Regions from separate parts of the Homo sapiens genome. Here region 2 is linked to region 1. The links come from fine-mapping of genetic effects on gene expression. A gene starts in region 1. The other region holds a variant in brackets. All regions are shown on one strand. Distances are from middle to middle.

What was found. PIP is the estimated chance that this variant, and not a neighbour inherited with it, causes the effect. A credible set is the group of variants that fine-mapping cannot tell apart.
Region 2: its variant is the best candidate, but not a certain one, in a credible set for the expression of PPP1R14B in stomach (GTEx, PIP 0.86).

What each region holds. Positions count from the first base shown.
Region 1 is chr11:64,244,761-64,250,121 of GRCh38, forward strand. It overlaps PPP1R14B (protein phosphatase 1 regulatory inhibitor subunit 14B), which reads right to left and starts at 2,183. Exons shown (of 4, transcript NM_138689.3): 1 at 1,656-2,183; 2 at 444-527; 3 at 170-202; 4 at 1-62. The coding sequence starts at 1,913. It overlaps PPP1R14B-AS1 (PPP1R14B antisense RNA 1), which reads left to right and starts at 1,106. Exons shown (of 2, transcript NR_135087.1): 1 at 1,106-1,329; 2 at 3,193-3,454. RefSeq lists silencers at 1,857-2,036, 2,757-2,896 and enhancers at 3,621-4,268, 4,269-4,914, 4,915-5,361.
Region 2 is chr11:64,321,065-64,326,425 of GRCh38, forward strand. PRDX5 (peroxiredoxin 5) reads left to right here. Exons shown (of 6, transcript NM_012094.5): 5 at 1-4; 6 at 522-747. The coding sequence ends at 627. It overlaps LOC102723878 (a long non-coding RNA gene), which reads right to left. Exons shown (of 4, transcript NR_188518.1): 4 at 3,986-4,267. Among named protein-coding and RNA genes, the nearest start is that of PRDX5, 5.6 kb to the left of the region's middle. RefSeq lists a silencer at 4,276-4,428. The variant T/C (reference allele first, on the strand shown) is at 3,246.

The sequences.
Region 1 (5,361 bases):
TTCTGGGGTGTGCTCAGCTTCTGCATGCCCCGGATCTTGTCCAGCAGGCCAGAAATGAAGGCCTGGATGGGGTGGGAGGGTAAACATTAAGGAGACCAGACCCCAAGATGACAGGAGCCGGGCTCCCCTCACCCTGCCACCCCCGCCAGCCCCCCAGGAAATCTCTTACCTCTGTGGGTTTGTAACAGTCAACCAGCAGCTCCTAGCAGAGGATGGGGGAGGAAGGATAAGTGAGTCCTCAGGAGTGGGGGCCTGGAGCTCGCCTATACCCACTTCCAAGAGACTGGGGCCACCCTGAGGCACAGGAGATGCCACAACAACCTCACAGCTAGGCATTGGCCCCATTCTGTTGAGGCAGGAGCTGGGGCTTGAGGGCCTGGCTCCACAGCCTCACTTTCCCGGGGCAGTGCCTCAGGCAACCCATCGCCCCCCAGCCCCCTCACCTTGACCCTGGCAGCCCGGGCATCGTCACTCTCCATGTCCAGGAGCTCATCCACGTCAATCTCCAGTTCTGGGATCTCCTCTTCCTGGGGTGGGGGTGGGGGAGGAGGGAGAGACATAAGCCTGAGTTGGAGAGAGGGTGTGAGAGGGGCTCTGGGTTGAGGCCCCTGCCTACCTCGGAGGAACCCAGCCCTCTGCCCAGCAGACAGAACAGCAGCTGCTCTGGGGAGGAAAACAGATCAGGCCCGTGCCAAGGCAAACTGCCCAAAGCGGGGTGGGGGGGGGAGCTTCCTGTCCCTGCCAGTGGGCACGGGGGGTGACAGACAAGGCCAGACAGCCAGGGTTGGGGACCTTGGGCTGGGAACCCAGCAGATGTGTCTCCCCAACATCCGGGCCCCCCATCTCACCAGAGCACCGGTGGGTGCAGCTGTCCCAGCTTATCATACCCCCCTCCCCTCCCCCAAACACCTGTCACAGCTCCCCGGGAGTGAGGAGGAAGTGAAGGCTGAGGGGTCACTGGGAAGGACCCAGGCCTGGCAAAGAGGAAACAAAGAGCCCATGCTTTGGTGAGGGAGGGGATGCCCACCACCCTGCCACACCCTCCCCAGGAAGCCCCTATCCTGTTTGTAGTCAGCTGCATTCCAGGGCTGGGCTAGGGTAGGCAGGCAGCACCGGGCAAACCCACTCCTCCACCCTGCCCCCCGGGGCCTGAGTCACCGTCTGAACAACCAGGGAGTCATGGGGGTGGAGAAGCAGAGCCCAGAAAGCGGGCTAGCCTGCACGCACGCCAAGATGGAGCTCCAGGCTAGCCCACAGAACAGCCCAGCCGCAGCCGTCCTACCAGACCAGCACCTTGTAACCACAGTCTAACCCAGCGGGCACCAGGCGGTGAGACCTCCTGCCGCTGCCAGCCCAGGATAGCCCCCTTGCCTCTTGCCCAAGGCTCAGGCTACCCCTTGAGGCGTCTGGAGGACACTAGGCTTGACCTGGGGAGTGGCATGATGGGGGGCAGGGTCCGAGGCAACGGAGAAGGCAGAAGTGACTTAGGTCAGGCAAGAAAGAGTATATATTGGGGGCGGGAGTGCAGAGGGGAGGGGAGCGCGCGGGGAAGCAAAGCGCCCTTTGACTCCAGTGACAGGCGAGCTCACAGTGGAGCTGCCAGGCGGACCGGCGCGAGACCGATTTTGGGGTGTCGGCGCGGGGTGGGAACACACCTGGCAGTCGTAGAGGCGCGTGAGCTGCTCCAGGATCCACTCCTCTAGGTTGAGGCGCTTCCGTAGCTCCTTGCGGTCATACTTGACGGTGACCTTCCCTTGGCGCCTCACTGGGCCCTCATCGTCCGCCCCGCCCGGGCCCTCTCCTGCGGCCCCGGGGGGGCTCTGAAAGTAGACGCGTGGTCCTGGGCCGCCACTGCCCGGCCCGGGGGCCGGGGCCGCCAACGCCGCGCCCCCCGCGGTGCCGCTGTCCGCCATGGCGGCCGCCGGGGCCACGTGCGAGCGTCGGGCCCCTCCCTGCGCCACCGCCTCCGGGACGCCCGCCGGCTGGCTCGGGTTAGCTCGCCGGCTCCGCTCCGCGCGGCTCCGCGGCGAGGGCGGCGGCGGGGGCGCCCGGGGGCAGCTGCAGCATGCGGAGCCCCCGGGCTTGGCCTGGCCGCGCCCCGCCCCCTCCCCGCCGATCCGCCCGCCCTTTGTCCCCCGCGGCCGCCGCCCGAGCTGCAGCCGCCGAAGCGCTTTCTCTGTCTCGCTCTTCCTCCGCCCCCCGACCACACCCCCTTAAAGGGCCAGCCCCTCTACAGGCCCCTCTCCCCTACTCCGCCCCCGGGCAGGGGTAGGGGAGGGTCTATTCGGCAGGGGGTGGCCTAGCTGTCCGTACTCCCCAAACGCAACCTTCCAGTCCCAAACCCAGGCGTTCTAAGCGCTCAGGACGACGATTTGCGCTCACGCCAGGACCCTAGTCTTCATTGGACCCTTCCTCATTCTGTCCTCATTGAGGCCATCTGAGAATAGGGGCTATCTGAGAATGCAGGGGAGTGGACATCGTGTGCAGACAGGGAGTCTGGTGAGGAGACGCTGCGGTCCCCGATGTCCAGGTCCTCCAGCCCTCGGCCAGCGAGGAGCGAACGGGCTCCTCCGCACGGACCGACACGTGGACTGGGCTCCTGGGAAAGGAAGAGTGGAGAAGGCGGGCAGGAGCTGTCCGGGTCCCTAGACTCTCCGAGTAGCAGGTCCCACGCCCCCAGCGGAAGAAGCCGGGGCTGGGGGTGAGCGGTGGCACCCGGCCGGCCCAAACGGCCAACCCCGGGCAGCCACCGCCCACCGGCAAGATGGCGCGAGGCTCGGGCTTGTGGGAAACGGAGTCCGCTCCCGGCGCCGCCCCTCCCCCGCCCTGCGGCCAGGCCGGGAAGCGCAAAGTTGTTTGGGGCGTCCTCTGCGCCTCGCGACCCGAGTGCGCACAGAGGGGGAAACTAAGGCGCAAAGAGCTGGGCAGTGCGGGGGCCGCGACTTATAATAATAAAGGCGGTAATTGCGGCTGACCCTAGGAGCGTGCGTCGGGACCGCCGCCCAGTCGGCTCCGCAGAGAGGGCGCCGTGCCGGGGCTCCTGCACCCCCGCCCTGCGGCTCCTCGGTCCTTCACATAGCCCTGGCCCACCTCCAATAAGCCGACGGCGCATCCCATTCCCTCCCTCTATTTTATTTTCTGCATCTTTAAATGGTCTCATTCATTCGTGTATTGTCTGTCTCCCACTTCTAGATTGTGAGTGCCACGGGGCTGAGGCCTGCGCCGACCTGGTCTGCTGGTGCTACCAGGCTTGAACAGTCTTCAAATCCACTGCTATTAGGCAAATTACCTGGCTCCCGCTGAACTCCAGCACCTAGAACTATGTCACACTCGTAGTAGGCCGCTGCATTGGTTGAACAAATGATTTTGAAAGAATGAATGTCTTCCTCTGTGCCTGCATTTCCTCAGAAGGCTGTAACAAAGATTAAATAGGAAAATTCGTGGAAAGTTCAATTACTACACCACAGAGGTTAATTAAGTCGCACTGCTAGATAAAACGGGAGACGAGACTTTGAACCCAGGCTGTGTGGCTCAAACCCCCTGACACGAAGTCTCTACTCAACCTCCTCACTACCCTGTAGACACCACCCAATAAGGCTGCGCAGCTCCCGGGGGATGTTTCTGTGGAAGGCAGGCTCACCTTGTGCCACCCCAAACAGGGTCTTGGATCTGAGAGGCAATGTTTCTGCTCCAGCCCCTCAAAGACACTCTTTGGATGTTGTGGGGGGAAGCCCTCTGCAGCGGGTGGGGTTCAGAGATGGATTGGGATTGGCCCCGGGGTCACACAGCTGGGGCTGCATCCAAACTCCAACCCAGGATGTTGGGCTCCTCCTTTGCCCTATAGTCAGAGAGAAGAGACCAAGAGAAGACAGAGGCTGGGCATTGTGAAGGCAATGGGCTCACAGGGCTCAGTTCAGGGAAGGGTAGAGTGAGCTGACCCCTCCCCTTCCCGTGCCCCTCCTCCGGCCTCAGCCTCCCTTCAGCCAGTCTGGGTGCCGAGGAAGGGCTGACCCTCGCTCTTGCGGATTAGGTAGGATCCACCCTCTCCACCGGGAGCCCTATCCGTGGCCTGGCCTCCTGCCCTAAGCCTGGCCTGATAGGAGGATCACTTTACCCCAGTCCAAATTCCCCACCACACCCCACCAGGCCAGGCCAGCTCCCTCTGAACCCAAGCATTGTTTGTACCTTGAGGGTGCACACAGATTAAAGGGGGAAGACCCTCAAACAGCCCCTAATGCCCAACAGCTTCTGTGGAAGTGGGGCCTGCAGGCCATGAAGACCCCCAGCCCTAGCTCTGCCCCCAAGATGCTGTGACCCTGAGCCCTGACCTTTCTGTCTGTCCTCCCTCAGGGTTGGTGTGAAGGTCTCCAGCCATGTCCGTGTCCACAGGTCAGGCATTCTTTCTGACTCTCCCTCTTCCCCCCACCGCGCCATGCCCAGGCACACCCAGATTCCTGTCCAGTTCCCATGGCTATCCACCCGAGACCACTTGGTGCAGGTGGGCATGCTGGCCTGCCACCTTCTTGGAAGCTGGGCCACAGAACCTTAGCCTTGGAGTAGAAATACTGGGTTCAAATCCTGGCTCTGCCCCATGGGCTGAGAGGCTGTATGCAAGTCACTTACCTGCTCAGAGCCTCTTCAGGGGGCTTATGGTCCTGACCTCCTGTGGTTGGGGGCCCATGCCCAGCCCTGGCCCTCCTGCCTGAGCCCTACTGGGACTGGAGTGTACCACTGCTCCTCCTCCTTCTAGCCTCAGTCTGTGGCCTCCCCAGCCCTACCCCTTCCAGGGCCCCAGCCCCCCTCCATTAGAGTGCATCCTTGAAGCAGAGGCTCTGGGGAGGGTCCTGTGGGTCAAGACCGCTCCTTCAATCAAGGGTAGAGTCCGGAAAGGCTGCCTGCCTTCACCATTACTGCCTGCTGAGATACCCTATTACCATTACCAAGGATGGAAGAAAGTGTCTGGGAAGGAAGGAGCCCTGTAATGGGGGCTGCCCTGGCCTCCAGAGACACAGGGTTGGGGGAGGAGAGAGGCTTAAGCCCAGGAAACAGGTGCCCATCCTGTTTTTTTCCACAAGGAGCTGCTGCCCAATGCTTCTCTAAAGTACGCTTGCACAAGGCCTAGGGCCCACAGCTCAGATCCCCTAAGCTCAGGCCTTGGCTCCAGGCTTTGCTAGCCCTGGCACAAGCTGGAGGTTCCACTGCCCCAGAGCTGACCTATGCCCTTTCCTCCCTCCCTGGTATACCCACAGCTTCCAGCTACTCATGTCAATTTGGCATCTCCCACCCATTTGCTTATGTATACAACAACCTTTAGGTTCTGGACAAGGTGACTGAGGCACCTAGAGAGACTAGGTTCTGCCA
Region 2 (5,361 bases), 76 kb after region 1:
AGAGGTAAAAGTGGAGAGTCCTCTGTGGAGAGAGTCCTCTGTGGGAGAGAGTCCTCTGTGGGAGAGAGTCCTCTGTGGAGAGGGTCCTCTGTGGGAAGAGTCGTCTGTGGGGGAGAGTCCTCTGTGTGGGAGAGTCGTCTGTGGGGAGAGTCCTGTGTGGGGAGAGTCCTCTGTGGAGAGAGTCCTCTGTGGGGGAGAGTCCTGTGTGGGGGAGAGTCCTCTGTGGGGAGAGTCCTCTGTGTGGAGAGAGTCCTGTGTGGGAGAGAGTCCTGTGTGGGGAGAGTCTTCTGTAGGGGAGAGTCCTCTGGGGAGAGAGTCCTGTGTGGGGGAGAGTTCTCTGTGGGGAGAGTCCTCTGTGTGGAGAGAGTCCTGTGTGGTGGTGAGTCCTCTGTGGGGGAGAGTCCTCTGTGGGGGGAGTCCTCTCTGGAGTTCTCTTGGGCCCCTGGCTGTTCACTGCCTGTCTCCATGCCCAGCCTCCAAGCCCAGGCTGATGCAGCTGGCTGGGCCCCTCTTTCCGGCAGGTTCTCCATGGTGGTACAGGATGGCATAGTGAAGGCCCTGAATGTGGAACCAGATGGCACAGGCCTCACCTGCAGCCTGGCACCCAATATCATCTCACAGCTCTGAGGCCCTGGGCCAGATTACTTCCTCCACCCCTCCCTATCTCACCTGCCCAGCCCTGTGCTGGGGCCCTGCAATTGGAATGTTGGCCAGATTTCTGCAATAAACACTTGTGGTTTGCGGCCATCTCCTTGGTTATGAATGGCTGTTTCGCTGAGCGCCAGGCATTCTGGCATCATCACAGACTGGGTGAGAATGGTGAGGGCGCAGATGGGCTGAAAGGGAGAATGTAGGGGGTCCTGCTTAATTAAGGGGGAGCTAGGGAGGGCCTTTCAAGGGAAGTTTTTTTTTTTTTTTTTTTTTGAGACAGTTTCACTCTGTCCCCTAGGCTGGAGTGCAGTGGCATGATCTCGGCTCACCACAACCTCTGCCTCCCAGGTTCAAGCGATTTTCCTGCCTCAGACTCCCCAGTAGATGGGATTACAGGTGTCTGCCACCACGCCCGACTAAGTTTTTGTATTTTTGGTAGAGACGGGGTTTCACCATGTTGGCCAGGCTGGTCTCGAACTCCTGACCTCAGGTGATCACCCGCCTCCACCCCCCAAAGTGCTGGGATTACAGGTGTGAGCCACTGTGCCCAGCCTTGAGGCAGGTGTTACTGAGCACTGAGAAGGAGCCAGCAATCTGAAGAGGAAGGGAAGAAGCGCTCCCCACAGAGGCAGCACAGAGGGCGAGGCCTGGCCGATGGCATGTGGCGCACAGTGTGGCCTTTGTACCTGCTCTCTGGGTGCTGCCTGATGCCATTTAGTCTGGAAACCCCATGGCGGGAAGCTTGGCTCCCAGCATTCCTGCCGGGGCCCAGCCCCACCATCCTTTCAGACTTGACCCCCTCCTGGGCACACCCTCATCCCAGGAAGAGCTCAGGTCACTTTAGGACCATCTGATGGACAGGGAGAGGGGCTCTGGCACAGCACTTGCTCATTCCAGGAGGGCTCCCTGGGGGAAGAGTCTAGGTGAGCTGTGGAGGGGAGAAGATGCTGGTGAGGCCTGACCAGTGGTGGCTGGGTGTGAGGGGCCTCAAGTGGGGACACCAGCAGGGTGTGGGGATGGGGGCCATTGCCACGGCAGGCCCTGCTCCTGGGCCTCTGCCCCTTGGTGCAGGGAAGCCACGCCTGTGATGGTGAGGCCCCACTGCGTGGAGTCTAGGGGGCCTCTGTGCCCTGCGCGATGCTGCCTGCCTGCCCACCCCAGGTGTGGTAACAGCCCTCACAAGAATTGGTGAGGTGTGGACTGCTGCTGCCTCTCAGCCACCTACAGGGAGTCCGCATTCCATCACCGCGTGGAGCTGCCCTGCCATGAACCACATCAATACCTGGCTCCCAGGCACTTCCTGCGTAGTGGTCCCCAGGGGTCAGCCCCCACTGCTGACTCAGGCAGGCCACACTCTTGAGAGGTCAGGGAGAAGGTCAAAGCAGGGCCTCATAGAGCAAATGACCCTTGAGGCAGTGGGAGTGGCGCCTCAAGTGGGAGGCGGAGGGAGGCCCATAGCCCTAGGGGTGAGCCCCATAGCCCTAGGGGTGGAGGGTGGGACAATCCCATGCTGCCGCAGCAAGGTGGGTAGCAGGAGTAGGGGGGGAATGTTGGGGACAAGAGAGGATGCCTGGAGGTCAGTGGGCTCTCTGAAGCTGATGAGCAGCTTGCCTTCCACCCTACAGGCACCTTGGCCATGGGCTACCGTGTGCAGCCCCCAAGCTGGGAGGCTGGGAGAGGCACCAGATGGGCAGCAGGGAGCAGGACCCATGATGACAGCAATGCCCAGGAGGTGGAGGTGGAGATGTGTTGGGAGGGAGGGTGCATCCAGGGAGCTGCTTGCTGAAGGTGGAGGGGCTGGGTGCTTGTGGTCACGTCTGTGAGAACAGACACTCAGTAGGAGGGGAGCCAGCCTCCCTGCCCAGGGTTGCAGGTGCTCAGCCTACCCGAGTCGTGCTGCCCACCAACCTCTGTCACTGTGGTTCTCTCCCACAACCTGCCACCCCTTCAGGGGTCCCAGGTGGGGGCAGGGAAGGAGGCTGACTGCACCTCGAGCTGCCCTGGTAAACTGCCTGCCTCTCCTCTCCTGCCAAACTCGGGGGTACAGTGTTGTCCTCATGGACACGCATAACACAAAGCCCCTTTCTTTCCCGGATACCACCTCTTTATCCTCTCATCATACAAATGAGAAAACAGACGTGGAGCTTCCTACAGGGCACCTGTGAGCTAATGAGTGTCTCCATTAGTAAATAGGGGGTGGTGGTAGCAAATAGCCCACCCCACTGGCTGTGCACCCCACGCTACCCAGGCAGCTCCCTGCTATCGGGGAAGCCCAGCTCCGTCTCTGTCACTCTGCTGCCTGTTTCCTCTGCTCCTGGGCTATTATCTGGGCTGGCTGAGGCCAAGCAAGGCCTCTAGAGGAAGTGTCCCCTCCAAGGTCTGTTGCCACTGGCTGGGCCTCTAGGAAGGGTTGAGAGGGCTTCCAGGGCTGGGGTGGCCCTCTAGGACAGCCTGGTGTGGGTGGCGGTGGGGCTGTGGCCTCAGTGGCCCTGACTGCTGAGCATGTGGCTGAGCTTGCTGGAGTGAGGACGTCCTTGGGTGGGGGCACGGAGGACTGGCCCTGGAAGCTGCTCCAGGCCCTGGAGGGCCCAAGA[T/C]TAAACAGCACCTGGCAAGAGAACCTTGCATAGCTGTCTCCAGGTTGGACAGGTGGGGCTTCAGGCCTGGAGATAAGGGCAGACCAGGCCACGGTGTCCTGGACCAGAGAGCCCTGGACATCTGGGCTGCACCTGGCAGAGCTGTGCGTGTGGCCTTCCTGGGCTCTTGGTGGCCGAAAGACCAATGTTAAAAAACATAACAGGCCAGGCGGGGTGGCTTACACCTGTAATCCCAGCACCGTGGGAGGCCAAGGCGGGTGGATCATTTTAGGTCAGGAGTTTGAGACTAGCCTGGCCAACATGGAGAAATCCCATATCTACTAAAAATACAAAAATTACTTGGGCATGGTGGCGCATGTCTGTAATCCCGGCTACTGGGGAGGGAGGCTGAGGCAGGAGAATTGCTTGAACCTGGGAGGTGGAGGTTGCAGTGAGCCGAGATCGTGCCACTGCATGCCAGCCTGGGAGACAGAGCAGGAGTCTGTCTCAAAAAAAAAAAAAAAAAAAAAAAAAAGAAAAGAAGCTGAAACATCCACCCAACAACACATGCCCCAGTGAAACTCACTTGCCTGTCCTAGCATGCCCAAGGCCATAGCAACTGAGACCAGAAGGCCAAGGGTGTTACTCAGCATCAGTGGTTCTGGGCCTTCCTGGGTCTAGAGTCCCTTTGAAACGCAGCTGAACAGACCCCAACATGAGCCTGAAGAGTGTTGACCTAAAAGGAAGAAGCCTAGGCAAAATTAATATCAGCGGAGACTTTATTTGGGCCAAGCTTGAGGATTGCATCCCAGGAGCACAGATTCAAGTTGCCCTGAATATACACTCCGATTAGCAGAAGTTGAAATGGATTTTAAAAGGACAAGAGAGCTCCTGAGTTGTTTACTAAGAATTTACATTAAAATAACAAACTGGCTGGCTGCAGTGGCTCAGGCCTGTAATCCCGGTTCCTCTGGCAGCTGAGGTGGAAGCATTGATTCAGGCCAGTTTGAGACCAGCTTGGACAACATAGCAAGACACCGTCCCTACAAAATAAATAAATAAATAAATAAGTAAATATATAAATAAGTTGTCGTAGTGCATGCCTGTGGTCGTAGCTACTCAGGAGGCTGAGGCGGGAGGATCGCTTGACACCAGGAGTTGGTGACTAACTACAGTTAGTGAGCTATAATCGTGCCACTACCCTCCAGCCTGGGTGACAGAGCGAGACCTTGTCTCTAAAAAAATAAAAATAGGCCGGGTGTGGTGGCTCACACCTATAATCCCAGCACTTTGGGAGGCTGAGGTGGGCGGATCACCTGAGGTCGGGAGTTCGAGACCAGCCTAACCAACATGGAGAAACCCCGTCTCTACTAAAAATACAAAATTAGCCAGGTGTGGTGGCTCATGCCTGTAATCCCAGCTACTCGGGCGGCTGAGGCAGAAGAATCACTTGAACCTGGGAGGCGGAGGTTTTGGTGAGCCAAGATCTCACCACTGCACTCCAGCCTGGGCAACAAGAGCCAAACTCTGTCTCAAAAAAAAAAAAACCCAAAACAAAAACAACTAAATAAAAATAAATTAGTGACACCCCGTCTCTACCAAAAAAATAAAATAATTGGGTGGGTGTGGTAGCACGTGCCTATAGTTCGAGCTACTCCAGAGGCTGAGTTGGGAAAATCACTTGAGCCCAGGAGGCCAAGACTGCAGTGAGTTATGATTATGCCACTGCACTCCAGCCTGGGTAATAGAGCAAGACCCTGCCTCAAAAAAAAAAAAAAAAAAAAAAGGCTCAATAAAAGGTTATTTGAAAGATAAAAATCAGGCCAGGCATGGTGGCTCACGCCTGTAATCCTAGCACTTTGGGAGGCTGAGGTGGGCGGATCACCTGAGGTCAGGAGTTTGAGACCAGCCTGGCCAACATGGTGAAACCCCATCTCTACTAAAAATACAAAATTAGCCAGGCATGGTGGTGCCATGCCTGTAGTCCCAGCTACTTGGGAGGCTGAGACAGGAGAATTACTTGAACCTGGGAGGCAGAGGTTGCAGTGAGTCGAGATCACGCCATTGCACTCCAACCTGGGCAACAGAATGAGTCTCACCACAACCTCCGCTTCCCGGGTTCAAGCGATTCTTGTGC